Linked DNA regions of Homo sapiens. The protein of the gene in region 2 purifies or fractionates together with the protein of the main gene of each other region. This does not show direct contact. Each region holds a gene or a part of one and is shown on either strand. Other genes may lie near its edges.

What was found.
Region 1: the proteins of ENOPH1 (region 2) and THEM4 purify together in Homo sapiens (affinity purification with mass spectrometry; 2 studies listed by BioGRID and IntAct, with this or other methods). This does not show direct contact.

The regions. Positions count from the first base shown.
Region 1 is NC_000001.11:151,905,821-151,913,924, forward strand, and holds the start of THEM4 (acyl-coenzyme A thioesterase THEM4), read right to left. Parts: upstream 3,692-8,104; 5' UTR 3,639-3,691; coding exon 3,540-3,638; intron 1-3,539. UniProt on the Homo sapiens protein: Has acyl-CoA thioesterase activity towards medium and long-chain (C14 to C18) fatty acyl-CoA substrates, and probably plays a role in mitochondrial fatty acid metabolism. Plays a role in the apoptotic process, possibly via its regulation of AKT1 activity.
Region 2 is NC_000004.12:82,446,901-82,454,824, forward strand, and holds part of ENOPH1 (enolase-phosphatase E1), read left to right. Parts: intron 1-1,019; coding exon 1,020-1,121; intron 1,122-4,142; coding exon 4,143-4,345; intron 4,346-7,821; coding exon 7,822-7,924. UniProt on the Homo sapiens protein: Bifunctional enzyme that catalyzes the enolization of 2,3-diketo-5-methylthiopentyl-1-phosphate (DK-MTP-1-P) into the intermediate 2-hydroxy-3-keto-5-methylthiopentenyl-1-phosphate (HK-MTPenyl-1-P), which is then dephosphorylated to form the acireductone 1,2-dihydroxy-3-keto-5-methylthiopentene (DHK-MTPene).

The DNA.
Region 1 (8,104 bases), on a different chromosome or scaffold from region 2:
TAAGACATGCCTGAGTAGGCCTAGGCTGCGGCCGTCTGGGCACCATAGTGAAGATTATGAGATAAGCACTTGCAAGGCTCTTTTGAGCAAGCCTAGATAACAGCCACCTGGGCTGCATAAGCAAGGGTCATAGTGAGAGGTGACAGTGTGCTGGAAGTCCTCACAGCCCTCGCTCCCTCTCGGCGCCTCCTCTGCCTGGGCTCCCACTTTGGCGGCACTTCAGGAGCCCTTCAGCCCACTGCTGCACTGTGGGAGCGCCTTTCTGGGCTGGCCAAGGCCAGAGCCGGCTCCCTCAGCTTGCAGGAAGGTGTGGAGGGAGAGGCGCGAGCAGGAACCAGGGCTGCGCGGGGTGCTTGTGGACCAGCTGGAGTTCCAGGTGGGTGTGGGCTTGGCGGGCCCTGCACTCGGAGCAGCCAGCCGGCCCTGCCGGCCCCACGCAATGAGGGGCTTAGCACCCGGGCCAGTGGCTGCAGAGGGTGTACTGGGTCCCCCAGCAGTGCCGGCCCACTGGCGCTGCGCTCGATTTCTCACTGGGCCTTACCTGCCTTCTGGCGGGGCAGGGCTCGGGACCTGCAGCCTGCCATGCCTGAGCCTCCCACGCCCTCCGTGGGCTCCTGCACGGCCCGAGCCTCCCTGATGAGTGCTGCCCCCTGCTCCACGGCGCCCAGTCCCATCGAGCACCCAAGGGCTGAGGAGTGTGGGCACACAGCGTGGGACTGGCAGGCAGTTCCACCTGCAGCCCCAGTGCGAGATCCACTGGGTGAAGCCAGCTGGGCTCCTGAGTCTAGTGGGAACTTGGAGAACCTTTATGTCTAGCTAAAGGACTGTAAATACACCAATCGGCACTCTGTATCTAGCTCAAGGTTTATAAACACACCAATCAGCACCCTATGTCTAGCTCAGGGGTTGTGAATGCACCAATCGACACTCTGTATCTAGCTACTCTGGTGGGGACTGGGAGAACCTTTGTGTTGACACTCTGTATCTAGCTAATCTGGTGTGGACGTGGAGAACCTTTGTGTCTAGCTCAGGGATTGTAAATGCACCAATCAGGGCCCTGTCAAAACAGACCACTTGGCTCTACCAATCAGCAGGATGTGGGTGGGGCCAGATAAGAGAATAAAAGCAGGCTGCCCAAGCCAGCAGTGGCAACCCGCTCGGGTCCCCTTCCACACTGTGGAAGCTTTGTTCTTTCGCTCTTTGCAATAAATCTTGCTGCTGCTCACTCTTTGGGTCCACACTGCCTTTATGAGCTGTAACACTCACCGCGAAGGTCTGCAGCTTCACTCCTGAAGCCAACGAGACCACAAACCCACCGGGAGGAACGAACAACTCCAGACGTGCTGCCTTAAGAGCTATAACACTCACCACGAAGGTCCGCAATTTCACTCTTGAGCCAGCAAGACCATGAACCCACCAGAAGGAAGAAACTCTGAACACATCCGAACATCAGAAGGAACAAACGCCGGACATGCCGCCTTTAAGAACTATAACACTCACCACGAGGGTCCGTGGCTTCTTTCTTGAAGTCAGTGAGACCAAGAACCCATCAATTCCGACACAGTATGTAATCCTGAATTATGCACCTGTCACAATTTGATGAATTAATTGCCTTTGTGCTGCCTCTGTATCCTTGCTTTCACGCCACTATGCTTCACGCCACTGTAAGCTTGTTTCAAGCTAGCCCACCCCCTTTTAAAAGTGTGTATTAAAGTCAAGTGCTGTCTTTGTTCTGGGCCCAGCTTTTGGATGTTAGTCCGCTGGGTCTGAGTGCACTCAATAAAGTTCTCCTGTCTCACCCCATGGCCTCTCCAGTCCTCCTTCATTCCTGCAACAGAAGGATGAGTGAAATGGGGACTCAAAACCTCTCACTTTCATTTCTGAGCCTTTTGGTCTTATGGCATTCCTCTTCTTTTTGGGGGGACAGCAACGGCACCTATTTTTCTTTTTACGATACTGGAGGTGGTCCACACCCACCCCAATGGTCACCAGTGCACTCACAAGACAGTTGGGTGGGGTAGCTCCCTGGCCCCACTTCTTTACTGGCTGGGGTGCATGGTGGTGTCTGCAGCATGTGTGTGTGGTGTCCAGTAGCCACACAGGGCATAAATGAGCCACAGCCACTGCCCAGGCTCCAAGGCGCCGGCATGGCTGGCTGGCGTTCCCTACCAGGTGCCTGCAGTCTCCCCCTCCCCATTCCAGGGAGTCTAGCTCTGTCCCACAGCAATTAAGCTCCTCTCTCTGGTGGAGGAACCATTTGCATAGGAATAAGAGGTTCTTCCCCCAGGCATCCTTATCTCCTCTCCAACCCATCAGCAGTATACTTTTAAAGGAGGTTTTTCTTTTCCTTTTGGAAGACGTTTTGCTCTTTTGGGAATGATGAGGATTACCGTTTATATTTTCTGTAAAGTTTTGTGCGAAAGGATTTGTGAGGTAAGTCGTAAGCTGTAGCCAATCTGTGTGTTTTGCATGTCTTTCTGTATGCTCCACAGCAAACTTCGCTGCAGGCCTCCATCTTGTTTTACGTCCTTGGGGGCGTGGCCTGTAACCCCATTGCATAGCTTCGTTTAGCCCGGCATGGCCCAGATTCATCCTGGCTTAGGGAATGAGTCCTTTCTGGTTTGGTATCTGTATGCCCTTTCGCTATTTGTCGATTCCCCTGCCCTCCACCAACCACCTTGGATTTTCCTTTCTCTGAGCCTTTAAGTAAAGTTTGAAAGCCAGAAATATTGGCCGCTTGGTGGAGCTAAAGTTAGATAATAAGGGTGTTAAAAGAATTTTCTTAAGGAGTGCTCAGCTTAATTAAAAGTAGATATCTAAGTTGTAATTATATTTATAAGGCCTTTATGTTTTCCTTTTCTTGGACCTTATTTTGCTGGAAAAAGTGTTTCTTTGCGGTCGACTGAGTTATTTTTCTCCATTTTGCCTTGCCACTTTTAATGCCTGCATAAGAGGGGCGATCTCTGTTTTCCTCATGGAACCCCAGGAATTAAAAGCAGATAGATCCCTCTCCCTGTGATGAAAGATCTTATGGCAACTGGGTTTTCTTCTGCCTGTCTGTGTAGTTATATATGTGTTGTGTGTGATGTCTATAAAAAGATCTCTAATTAATTGACCTAAAGGAAGATAAGCGTTTGGATCAAATATTTTTTTAAAGGGAAGATAAAAGCTGTGGTATCTTTTAGTTCACGTCACTTTAATCTTTGAAAAATAAAAACAGCCTCAAATATTATTGGTAAAATACAGATGTTGTCAAAATATAAATAGACAGACTAAATTATGCAGTTCAGGTAGCGCCCTGCCGACCCTGTCTCTTAAAAAACAAAAAAACGGGGTCACCTTTCCATCCCTTTTCTAACGGTTTGAATCTCAGGACTGTATTCCTAGGCCCCTGTTGCTTATGCTGCCCTGTGGTGCCCAGGTGAGCTTTTATTCTGAGATTGGCTGGTTGGGGTATGGATAACAATCGAAGGCTCTGTTACCGCAGGCGTGTTTCTGAGTCCTGCTCCCGCCCCATGCCCGAGGGTGCCCAGACTCACCAGCTCGGGTCGCGGCTCGCTTCCCGGCAGGCGCCGGCCTACTGGCGGCAGGCACAGAGCCCCCAGCGTGCGGAGGCGCGCGGCGCAGCTCCTCAGCATGGCTCCGGGCCGCGGGGCCGCGCTTGCTCTAGCCCTGGACGGCGCACTCTACCTCCGCCACAAGAGCGCGCGTGCGAGTTAACCCCTGGGGTGGACGCAGGGCGGGGCTTGGGGAGGAGGCGGTGCGCACTACTGGCGGCTGGCTGGCCGGGGTGTGAGGCCGGCGGGGTCCGGGTAGGGCATCGCTGTTGAGTCTATCTTCTGGTTCCGGCCTTTTCTTTCCGAAGACCTCCCGCTGCGGCCAACAGCCGGGCCACTTCCGGGGCTTCTCAAAGGCAAGAGGAGCGCGGCCGGAGCGGATCCCGGTTATCGCCTTGGGCCCCTCAGCCCCTCAGCCCCGGAACCCGCGCGCCGACTGGAGGCTTTGCGGTCATCCTTCCCACATGACCCAGGGCGTACGCAGTGCTCCGTGTCCCCAAGTAGTTATCCCTCCCCCGGAAGACTGAAGTCCCTGGGGCGGGTAGGAGCGCACGCTAGGAGTAGTATGAATAAAGTGTTTTCTTGGAGGTCATGGGCAAGTCTCTGGACAGGGTTGATAGTGCTGATTTATAGAGGGCAGTCTGGGCACAAAGAGCATTTATACGATCGAAAAGCTGCTTTCCCTGCCAACAGCCCCATACCCTCCCCAGGAGCGCGCTTACGCCTTAAAAGACTCTTTTGTTATGTAAACTGACAGTTAAATTAAACGAAGGTAATGGATACTAAAGGCGTAACAGGTATTGTAACTATTTTACTGTTATCGATGCTTTTGAGGTTACTTACCTCGCTTGTATTCGTATGGTGGGAATACTAGGCGCATACCTTCTGAGCTTCGAATTCAGTAACCTCACTGGGACCTTGAAATCGGACTGGGTTGGAGTATTCCCATTACTCAGATAATGCAAATCCGGGCCATCATACCCCTTTATTTTTAAATGCTTACCAGTATGCCATAGCCCTAGTCCATCCTAAGGTGAAGACTCTAATGGGTTTTTTTTGAGACAGAGTCTCGCAGAGATACTGCTATTGCACTTCAGCCTGGGCAACATACTGATGCCCCATCTCAAAAAAGCAATAAATTAAAAAGAAAACTCGAATGACCTGAATGCATTAGATATTTTGCCTTGATTCCTTTCCCATGAACAACTCCAGCAGTTTGTCAGTAGGTAAGAACACCTAGATACATTTTAAGCCTACACTATTAACTGGGGGAAGGTGTAACATTCTGAGAGAAAGGGAATTGGGGAGAGAAGGCAATGCAGTTAGGAGGGGCCCCTTGGAATCCTAGAGCTACTGAACCGAAGATCAGGCATAAAGGATGGTTGTTGAGATTCTGTAATTCTAAGAGGTTGTATTCTGATATCTCCTAAGCACCCCCCCCAACCTCCCACATTCCCTTTATCTCAGTTGTCTTCCTTTTTAATATATTAATAGTATTGCAGTTTCCTGGTGGCAGGGATGGGGTCAGATTGCCTTATTAATTGTAACAACGTGCACGTAGTGCTTGAATACTTACTTAGCAGCAAGAATCCAAAGTATCTTTGGTGTCTGTTGTCTTCCCATGTTGTGCGTGCAGATGGAGGCACGAGCATAACGTAAATCTCTAAAATTGAGATGACTACTGTTAATGAATAGAAAAGTTTATTCAGGTAACTTAAAATTGCATCTATTTACAATTTACAGTGTAGTCAAATCAATCAATACCTATAGACTTCAACCCTGCTAAGATTGTCTATATGATTAATGTACCAATAGCTCACCTAACAGCTTCCTTTTGTTTTTTTGAGATGGAGTCTCACTCTGTTGCCCAGGCTGGAAGTGCAGTGGCATGATCTTGGCTCACTGCAACCTCTGCCTCCAGGGTTCAAGCGATTCTCCCTGCCTCAACCTCCCGAGTAGGTGGGATTACAGGCGCGTGCCACCACATCTGGCTAATTTTTATATTTTTGGTAGAGACGGGGTTTCACCCTGTTGGCCAGGCTGGTCTTGAACTCCTGACCTCAAGTGATCTGCCTGCCTCCCAAAGTGCTGGGATTACCAGCATGAGCCACTGCACTCGGCACCTATCAGCTTCTTAAAAGACCTTAGACTTAGGGCAATTAGAGGTCAGTTACACTGAGTTTAAACTTCATTAAATTTTAACTCTAAATTTTTCAAGTAGCGGCAGTGCATTTAGTTAAGTCATCCACACTCTTGCATGGCTTACTCTGGGATATTCGTGTTGACAGCACATATAAAATGTCTGGTCAGATTTGGAAGAGGAAGGGCAGGTTACAGTCTAGAAATAGGATTGATAGGCTATGGAAGTGAAGGAGTTTGAAGCTTGTATGGTTTAGGCAAGGAACAAATGTTCAATCTTGATAGAACTAGGCTTCGAATAAGCCAATGGTATGAAACTTAATAGTCTTCTCACCATTCTTTAATTTTGTAGACAGCTTTATTGAGGTGTAGTTGCCATAGGATGGGCACCGTGGCTCATACCTGTAATTCCAGCACTTTGGGAGGCTGAGGTGGGTGGATCACCTGAGGTCAGGAGTTTGAGACCAGCCAGGCCAACATGGTGAAACCCCGTCTCTGCTAAAAATACAAAAATTAAGGCCGGGCGCAGTGGCTCACTCCTATAATCCCAGCACTTTGTGAGGCTGCAGCGGGCAGATCACGAGGTCAGAAGATTGAGACCGTCCTGGCTAACACGGTGAAACCCTGTCTCTACTAAAAATACCAAAAATTAACCGGGCGTGGTGGCGGGCGCCTGTAGTCCCAGCTACTCGGGAGTCTGAGGCAGGAGAATGGCGTGAACGTGGGAGGCGGAGCTTGCAGTGAGCCAAGATCGCGCCACTGCACTCCAGCCTGGGCGACAGAGTAAGACTGAGTCTCAAAAAAAAAAAAAAAAAAAAAGTTAGCCAGGTGTGGTGGCGCATGCCTGTAATCCCAGCTACTTGAGAGGCTGAGGCAGGAGAATCGCTTGAACCTGTCAGGTGGAGGTTGCAGAGAGCCGAGATCGCGCCATTGTACTCCAGCCTGGGCAACAAGAACGAAACTCCATCTCAAAAAAAAAAAAAAAAAAAAAGCCAGAGGCAGTGGCTCATGCCTGTAATCCCAACACTTTAGGAGGCTGTGGCAGGCGGATCACAAGGTCAGGAGTTCGAGACCAGCCTGACCAACATGATGAAACCCCGTCTTTACTAAAAATACAAAAATTAGCTGGGCATGGTGGCGTGCACCTGTAATCCCGGCTACTCGGGAGGCTGAGGCAGGAGAATTGCTTGAACCCGGGAGGCGGAAGTTGCAGTGAGCCAGGATTGCACCACTGCACTCCAGCCTGGGTGACAGAATGAGACTCCGTCTCAAAAAAAAAAAAAAAAAAAAAAAAGAGATAGTTGACATAAACTGAACATATTTAAAGTATACAATTGGATGTTTTCATACAAGTTTACACTCATGCAAACATCACCATAATCAAGATAATGAGCCACAAAATATTACCCACAAATTTGCTCATGCCCTTTTGTAAATCCTCCCTTCTATCGTACAGTACTTTCTGTCACTGTAGATTAATTTCCATTTTCTAGAGTTTTATATAAATGGAATTATATAGTATGTACTTTTTGTGGTCTGGATTTTTTTAATTCACTATAACTATTTTGAGATTCATCCATGTTTTGCTTATGTCGAGAATTTATTTTTTAAAATTGCTGAGTAGTATTCCATTGTATGGATGTACCACAATTTTTCTATTCACCCATGGATGACCATTTGGCTTATTTCCAGTTTTTGTGAATTACAAATATAGCTGCTGTGAGTACAAGTCTTTGTATGGATGTATGCCTTCATTTCTCTTGGGTAAATATCTAAGAGTGGAATGGTTGGATCATGTGGTAGATGTATGTTTAACTGTTTAAGAAACTGCCAAACTTTTCCAAAGTTGTTGTATCATTTTACCAGCAGTGCATAAGGATTTCAGTTCCTCCATATCCTTGCCAGCCTTCGGTATGGTCAATCTTTTATGTTTTAGCCATTGTAACTAGATGTGTGTAAGTATTTTATTGTGGTTTTAATTGGCATTTTCCTAATGATGAATAATGTAGGACATCTATGGGCTTATTTTTCATCTGTGTATCTTCTTCATTGAAACGTCTATTCAAATATTTTGCCCATTTAAAATAATGAGATATTTGTATTCTTATTATTGCACTTATTAATGCACCTCTGATAACATTTCACATCTAAATTTTAAGTTAAATTTCAAACCTTCCATTTATAAGAAAACTGAATGTCAGCGTGATGCTAGCTGCTTTAATATTTCTTGCTGAATTTTTCTTGGATTTGTTGTCATAGGTCTCACTCTTGGAAAGGATGTATTCTTGAATTGTTATCCATGGGGCAAGGCACCAAAATGAGTCTCCGGCTGGGTGAAGGGTCCATCTTCCCTTTCAGTAGTGGAAGAAGGGTGACTGTGAAAGAGGAGGTTGAAAAGAGGAATTGCA
Region 2 (7,924 bases):
TTTCACCTTGTTAGCCAGGATGGTCTCGATCTCCTGACCTCATGATCCACCCGCCTCGGCCTCCCAAAGTGCTGGGATTACAGGCGTGAGCCACCGCGCCTGGCCAACGGAATCTTATTCTGTCCCCCAGGCTGGAATACAATGATGGGATCTCAGCTTACTGCAACCTCTGCCTCCCAGGTTCAAGCGATTCTCCTGCCTCAGCCTCCCGAGTACCTGAGATTACAGGCACCCGCCACCACACCTGGCTAATTTTTGTATTTTTAGTAGAGACAGGGTTTCACCATGTTGGCCAGGCTGGTCTCAAACTCCTGACCTCAGGTGATCTGCCTGCCTCGGCCTCCCAAAGTGCTAGGATTACAAGTGTGAGCCACCATGCCCAGCTGCATATCACTTTCTTATAGGATGCTCCAAAGGTAGTCTAGTTACCAAGAAAGAGTCATGGTGATCAAGTTTGTTTTGTTTTTTTTTAAATACTTGTCATGTATGGACACCATTCTTTTCAGCAGATTATTTGAGTGATATGTACAATAATGTGGTATGCATGGGGGATAAAGCTGTGAGCAAGACACATTTAATCCATATCCTCAAGGACCTTTGGTCTGGCCATCTAGTTCTGTAGTTGGGAGACTTTTCCTGTAAAGGACCAGACAGTGAATATTTTAGGCTTTGCAGGCCCTATGGTCTTGGTTGCAAATACTGAATTCTGCCATTGTGATGCAAAAGTAGCCACAGACATTATTTAAATAAATGAGTGTGGCTATGTTCCAATAAAACTTCATTTACAGAAATAGGCAGTGGACTTGATTTGGCCTGCAGGTTGTAGTTTGCCGACTCTTGGTCTAGTTTATTTGTTTCTTGGCCTCTGTCTCTCTTTCTTGCTCATATTCACAGCAGCAATTTTCATAGAGTTCCATTGATTTATTTGTTACAGTTATGTAGGTAAGATTGTGGAAGAACTGGATCTTTTACAACTGATAAAAGCTAACTCTTGTATTTTCTTTTACTCTTTTATCCAGGACATTTTATTTCCTTACATCGAAGAAAATGTTAAAGAGTATCTGCAGACACATTGGGAAGAAGAGGAGTGCCAGCAGGATGTCAGTCTTTTGAGGAAACAGGTTGGGACATTTCTGTCTTAAATTCCCAAGTGTCTTAGAAATGAGGGTACCTGGAGATTTAGGACATGCTCTGAGCATTTTGTAAAATAAGTGCCCTGGTTTGATAGGGGATAGAAGTTGCAGTGACTTAGTGAGTTGCCTGCTTAGGAATTCACAGTACATAATTAAAGGCTGGATCATGTCAGTTTGTTGTTTCTGGAGTTGCTCTTTGGTTGTTTTTTTTTGTTTTGTTTTGTTTTGTTTTTTTTGTTTTTTTTTGAGATGGAGTCTCACTTCGTTGCCCAGGCTGGAGTGTGGTGGTGTGATCTTAGCTCACTGCAACCTCGCTTACTGGGTTCAGGCGATTCTCCTGCCTCAGCCTCCCGAGTAGCTGGGACTACAGGCACCTGCCACCATGCCCAGCTAATTTTTTGTATTTTTAGTGGAGATTGGGTTTCACCGCATTGGACAGGCTGGTCTAGAACTCCTGATTTCAAGTGATCTACCCTCCTCGGCCTCCCAAAGTGCTGGGATTACAGGCATGAGCTTACCACCCCCAGCCCACCCAAAAAGGGCTTAAGTTTGCAAATATATGATATTGTTAGGCAATTTAAATAGCTCTAGAAAAAGGCAACTCTAGGCTGGGCACGGTGGCTCACACCTGTAATCTCAGCACTTTGGGAGGCCGAGGTGGGTGGATCACTCGAGGTCAGGAGTTTGAGACCAGCCTGGCCAAAATGGTGAAACGCTGCCTCTACTAAAAATACAAAAAATTAGGCCGGGCGCGGTGGCTCACGCCTGTAATCCCAGCACTTTGGGAGGCCGAGGCGGGCGGATCACGAGGTCAGGAGATCGAGACCATCTCGGCTAAAACGGTGAAACCCCGTCTCTACTAAAAATACAAAAAATTAGCCGGGCGTAGTGGCCGGCGCCTGTAGTCCCAGCTACTTGGGAGGCTGAGGCAGGAGAATGGCGTGAACCCGGGAGGCGGAGCTTGCAGTGAGCCGAGATCCCGCCACTGCACTCCAGCCTGGGCGACAGAGCGAGACTCCGTCTCAAAAAAAAAAAAAAAAAAAAAAAATACAAAAAATTAGCCGGACATGGTGGCGGGCACCTGTAGTCACAACTCCTTGGGAGGCTGAGGCAGGAGAATTGCTTGAACGTGGGAGGTGAAGGTTGTAGTGAGCCGAGATGGCGCCACTGCACTCTAGCCTGGGCTACAGAGCAAGACTCCGTCTCAAAAAAAAAGAGTCCTTTCTGGGTAGAATGCAAAAGGTTTTGAGCAGTCTCTACATTTTTTATTAACGTCTCTATATTAGTCTGTTCTCACATTGCTGTAAAGAAATACCTGAGAGTGGGTAATTTTTAAGAAAAGAGGTTTAATTGGCTCACAGGTCTACAGGCTATACAGGAAACATAGCGGCATCTGCTTCTGGGGAGACCTCAGGAAGCTTCTAATCATGATGGAAGGCAAAGCCGGAGCAGGCGTCTCAGATGGTGAAAGTCAGGAGCAAGAGAGTGGGGAGGGGAGGTGCTACACACTTTAAAACAACCAGAACTCACTATTGTGAGGACAGCATCAAGGAGGATGGTGCTAAACAAACCATTCACGAGAAGTCTATCCCCGCGATCCAGTCACCTCCCACTAGGCCTCACCTCCAGCACTGAGGATTACATTTCAATGTGCAATTTGGGTGGGGACACACATCCAAGCCATGTCATTCTCCATATGACAGTACTTCATCATTTTGCACTCCCTCCTTCCTTACTGCAAGCCCCTGCTGCCCCCTCTGCAGTGCTCCTGGGTCCTCACACTCACACTCCCCTTCCAGACTCCTCACCCCAGCTCACTCTGGCCCAGCCCTCATACCTCCTTTGGTCTCCTGTGCTTTGTTCTACCCTCTTCTCCCCACCAGTCATCAGTCTGTCTTTTCCTTCCACATTGTGTGCTATGGAACTCCTGCTCTGTTGTTTTTCTTGTTAAAATTGCTTCAGTGGCAAAGATCTTACATGGTCTGCAGAGCTAACTCACTGGCAGTTATTTTCTAGTTCTATATTGGATACTGTGGAATGCTCTCTGTGGATGTTTTACTGTTAGGAATTAGGATTCAAAATGTAGTTATGTCCTTTGGGCATGGAATATTTGGGATTTTAATTTTCTGGATAACTCAGGGTTAATCTGAAATACAGTGAGTCCTTACTTAATGTTGTCTTTAGGTTCTTGGAAACTAAGTGAAATGACACTTAAATTTCAATTTTCAATTTTAAACCAACCATAACAAAACCAATTTTTTCTCCACATAAATGTTATAACAAAATGATGTTGAAGGAAATGACATTACTTGAGAAGGTCATGCCACTTGAAGTCACAGTTTCCAAGAACCTTTCAATGATGTTAAATGAGGACTTACTTTACTTTCCTCCCTTACCTTTTTTTGTTGTCAAAACCTTGTTGAAACATACATACATAGTCCCCCATTATTGTATATAAATATGTACACATGTATCTTTAGAAATTGGACTGCTTTGTCACAAGGTCATTGTTCTAAGTGGCTACTAGGATTTTTGCAAGATGTGGGAGATTATAGGAGACTGAATGTGAACCAACCTCATTACTTCACTAGCTTCTTTTTGCTGAATTCCAGGCATAAACTAATTTATGAGATTTTCTTTGTTTCTTTCTCCATTAGTTATAGTGCAGAGAAAATTATCAGATTGAGTTAAAGTCCTGGTTTGTTGATCCCAGTAGTGAATCAACAAATCAAATCTTAATTCTATCATTATGTGCTCTCTCTTCTCATATACAACATGCGTCTCAGTTTAAATTTCAGCTTTTAGCAAAAGGAAAGGTAATGTAAATTTATTAATCCAGGTTCTTTTAGGAATCATTTGTATCAGCTCCAAAGTATATGATGTTTCAATTTGCAGCCATACTAGGGCTAATGATGGAGAAAGTTGTTCTGCTGGGTTTTTGGGTCTCGTTTTAAATGACTGTTTTTTGAATAAGCAAAAAACAAACATCATGTTGTTTCTGACTTAAAGGCTGAAGAGGACGCCCACCTGGATGGGGCTGTTCCTATCCCTGCAGCATCTGGGAATGGAGTGGATGATCTGCAACAGATGATCCAGGCCGTGGTAGATAATGTGTGCTGGCAGATGTCCCTGGATCGAAAGACCACTGCACTCAAACAGCTGCAGGGCCACATGTGGAGGGCGGCATTCACAGCTGGGCGCATGAAAGCAGAGTATGTGCTTGAGTCAGCCTAAACATTTCACCAGTCCCAAATCCAAATATGTTTTTTCACCAGTCCTCTCTTTCCAGCGTAAGTCACAAGACTGGTAAAACAGATAAAAATCCACACTCTTTTTAGTCTAACAAGTGAGCTTTGTTTCATTTTTTCAAAACTTGGCTAAAATATTTCAGCTGACTAGATTACCCGGACCTGCCAGTCTGGTCTTGTGGGTTGATTGAAGGACTTGTCAAAGTCTCCGTTTAAAATAGCTTCCTAGAAAATGGTGACTTCCTTGAACTAAGTCATATTTGATTCTTAGCACATGAGTGACAGCTCCGTTGGGCTGCTTGCCTGGACTGTTAATTACCTGCTTTTTGCTCTATGAGACATAGGAAATTTTGTGCCCCACCGTGTTGAGGTTACTCAGAGGATGTCCGCACTACCACGTTCTTCTTTGCTCTTTTGAGCAACTTCCACAGATTCTTTGAGTCTTGGTTATGGAGTTCCTAATAGCACTCCTGCCTGAGGAGACTTTTGAGTATTATACTTACTGAGAAATTCTTGATTGATTCAGACAGGGTCCTACTCTGTTGGCTGGAGTGCAGTGGCATGATCATGGCTCACTGCAGCCTTGACCTCCCCTAGTTCAGGTGATCCTCCCACCTCAGCCTACCGAGTAGCTGGGACTAGGCATGTGCCACCATGCCCAGCTAGTTTTTGTATTTTTAGTACAGATGGGGTTCTACCATGTTGCCCAGGCTAGTCTCAAACTTCTGGGCTTGAGCGATCTGCCTGCCTTGGACTCCCAAAATGCTGGGGTTACAGGCGTAAGTCACAATACCTGGCCTATTTTTTTTTTTTTAGAGCTGGGGTCTTGCTCTGTGATCCACACTGGAGTGCAGTGGTGCCATCATAGCTCACTGTAGCCTTCAAGTGAACCTCCCGCCTCAGCCTCCTCATTAGCTGGGACCACAGGCACGCACCACCACACCTGGCTATTCAAAAAACATTTTTGTAGAGGTGTGGTCTTGCTATGTTGTCCATACCATATTGCTGATAAATTCTTTTCGTTTGTTTGTTTCTGTTTTTGCTTTGAGACCGAGTCTTGCTCTTTGCCCAGGCTGGAGTGCAGTGGCGCAATCTCAGCTCACTGCAACTTCTACCTCCTGGGTTCAAGCGATTCTCCTGCCTCAGCCTCTGGAGTAGCCGCCTGCCACTATGCTAATTTTTGTATTTTTAGTAGACATGGGGTTTCACCATATTGGCCAGGCTGGTCTTGAACTCCTGACCTCAAGTGGTCCACCCCATCTCAGCCTCCCAAACTGCTAGGATTACAGGTATGAGCCACCCCTCCCGGCCTATTTTTGTTTTTGGAGATAGTCTCACTCTGTTGTCCAGGATGGAGTGCATTCACACAATCTTAGCTCACTGCAACCTCCGCCCTCTGGGTTCAAGCAATTCTTGTACCTCAGCCTCCCAAACAGCGGGGACTACAGGTGCGTGCCACCACACCTGGCTAATTTTTTGTATTTTAGTAGAGACAGGGTTTTATCATGTTGTCCAGGCTGGTCTTAAGCTCCTGAGCTCAGGGCAGTCCACCTACCTTGGCCTCCCAAAGTGCTAGGATTACAGGCGTGAGCCACTGTGCCAGGCCTGCTGAGAAATTCTTTTTTTTTTTTTTTTTTTGAGACGGAGTCTTGCTCTGTCACCCAGGCTGGAGTGCAGTGGCGTGATCTCAGCTCGCTGCAAGCTCCGCCTCCTGGGTTCACGCCATTCTCCTGCCTCAGCCTCCCGAGTAGCTGGGACTACAGGCGTGTGCCACCACGCCCGGCTAATTTTTTGTATTTTTAGTAGAGACAGTGTTTCACCGTGTTAGCCAGGATGCTCTCGATCTCCTGACCTTGTGATCCGCCCCCCCTTGGCCTCCCAAAGTGCTGGGATTACAGGTGTGAGCCACTGCACCTGGGTGTGAAATTCTTAAGGATTTTAGGCCATTGCCTGCTGTAAACCCTAGGATCCAAGATTGTTTCCAGCTGCATATATTTCTTTTGTGTTTCTGTCAAATGAGATGTTGTTTCTTTATTTATGTACTTTACGAGGAGCTTCTACCTTTTAAAGGATGGACTGGAATTTCAGGATATGCCAGTGATCTGGGAATATCAGCCAGGTTCACTTTGTAAAGCACTCAAAAAAGTGGAGACAGGAGACTGTGCACCCGGTAGTTAGCCCATACTTCTCTTGGTCTTGGTTCCTTAATTATACAACTAACTGCTGAAGACAGGAAAAATCCTGTCTCCATGAGTGCAAACTAGTACTCAGAATAACATACTTACATGTGTACTGGTTTTGAATACGTTGATCTCTTTCCTTCAATTAGTGCAACATGTTAAGCATGTTAATACATATAAAGCGGAAGACTCCACTGACATTTTCCAGGTAATCTTTTAGAGATGACTGGTTCTACAACCCAAGTTCTTTGTGCTTCTCTTTTCACCTTTCTCCTGTGATGTTAATTTCCTCCATGACTATGGAAAACACTAGAATTGGTAAGAGAGACTGAGTGTCAGAAGTCAGAAAAAGACATCTTTTGCTGACTGGTTAATGTGAGTTGGTACAAGTCTCAACTGACTTGTTATGTAATTTTTTCCCCATATAATAAAACATTGTTTTCTTAGTTCTCAAAAAATGCAGGCCGGGTGCAGTGGCTCATGCCTGTAATCCCAGCACTTTGGGAGGCTGAAGTGGGGGGATCACTTGAGTCCAGGAGTTTGAGACCAGCCTGGGTGACATGGCAAAGCACCATCTCTACAAAAAATTAAAAAAAAAAAAAAAAAGCTGGGGGTGGTAGCACATGCTTGTAGTCCCAACTACCTGGGAGGCTGAGGTGGGAGGATCACTCGAGCCCAGGAGGTAGAGGTTGCAGTGAGCTGAGATCATGCCACTGCACTCCAGCCTAGGCAACAGAGCAAGACCCTGTCTCAAAAAAAAGTAATTCCATTTTCTAGCTAATCATAAGTTTATAGCTTTGAGCCTTCAAACTTTGTTTTGATTATTTTGGGTGCAGATCTTTCTAAAAGCATTTCCATGCTTTCTTAAAGCACAGTGGACATAATTTAACCTTTTCTTGTCATGAAGAACATCAAAGATTATATTATATCATTGCTGTTGTTTGCTTTTTTGAGTTCTTCGGGAATTTAAAAAACACTTTCCCATTTCATCCTTTTATCTGTAGTCCCTTTTTACTGTCACTAGTGGCTGTCTGTTCAAAACTATCCTCCTTTCCACATAGATTGTTGCTTCTAATCTGCTGTGAGCCTGGAACTTGGGCAGTATGTTTATTAGAACTGCAGGAGTTTGTAGTCTCAGGGAGCTGCTTCTCAGGTTACCATGTGGGCACAAAGAGAGAAACATATGGCATCTGTTTTGACAGGTTTTTATCTGGCTAGATGAGGTGTTCCTGTATTTTAACTTAGTGGTCTTCCCTCTAGGTTCTTTGCAGATGTAGTTCCAGCAGTCAGGAAGTGGAGAGAGGCCGGAATGAAGGTGTACATCTATTCCTCAGGGAGTGTGGAGGCACAGAAACTGTTATTC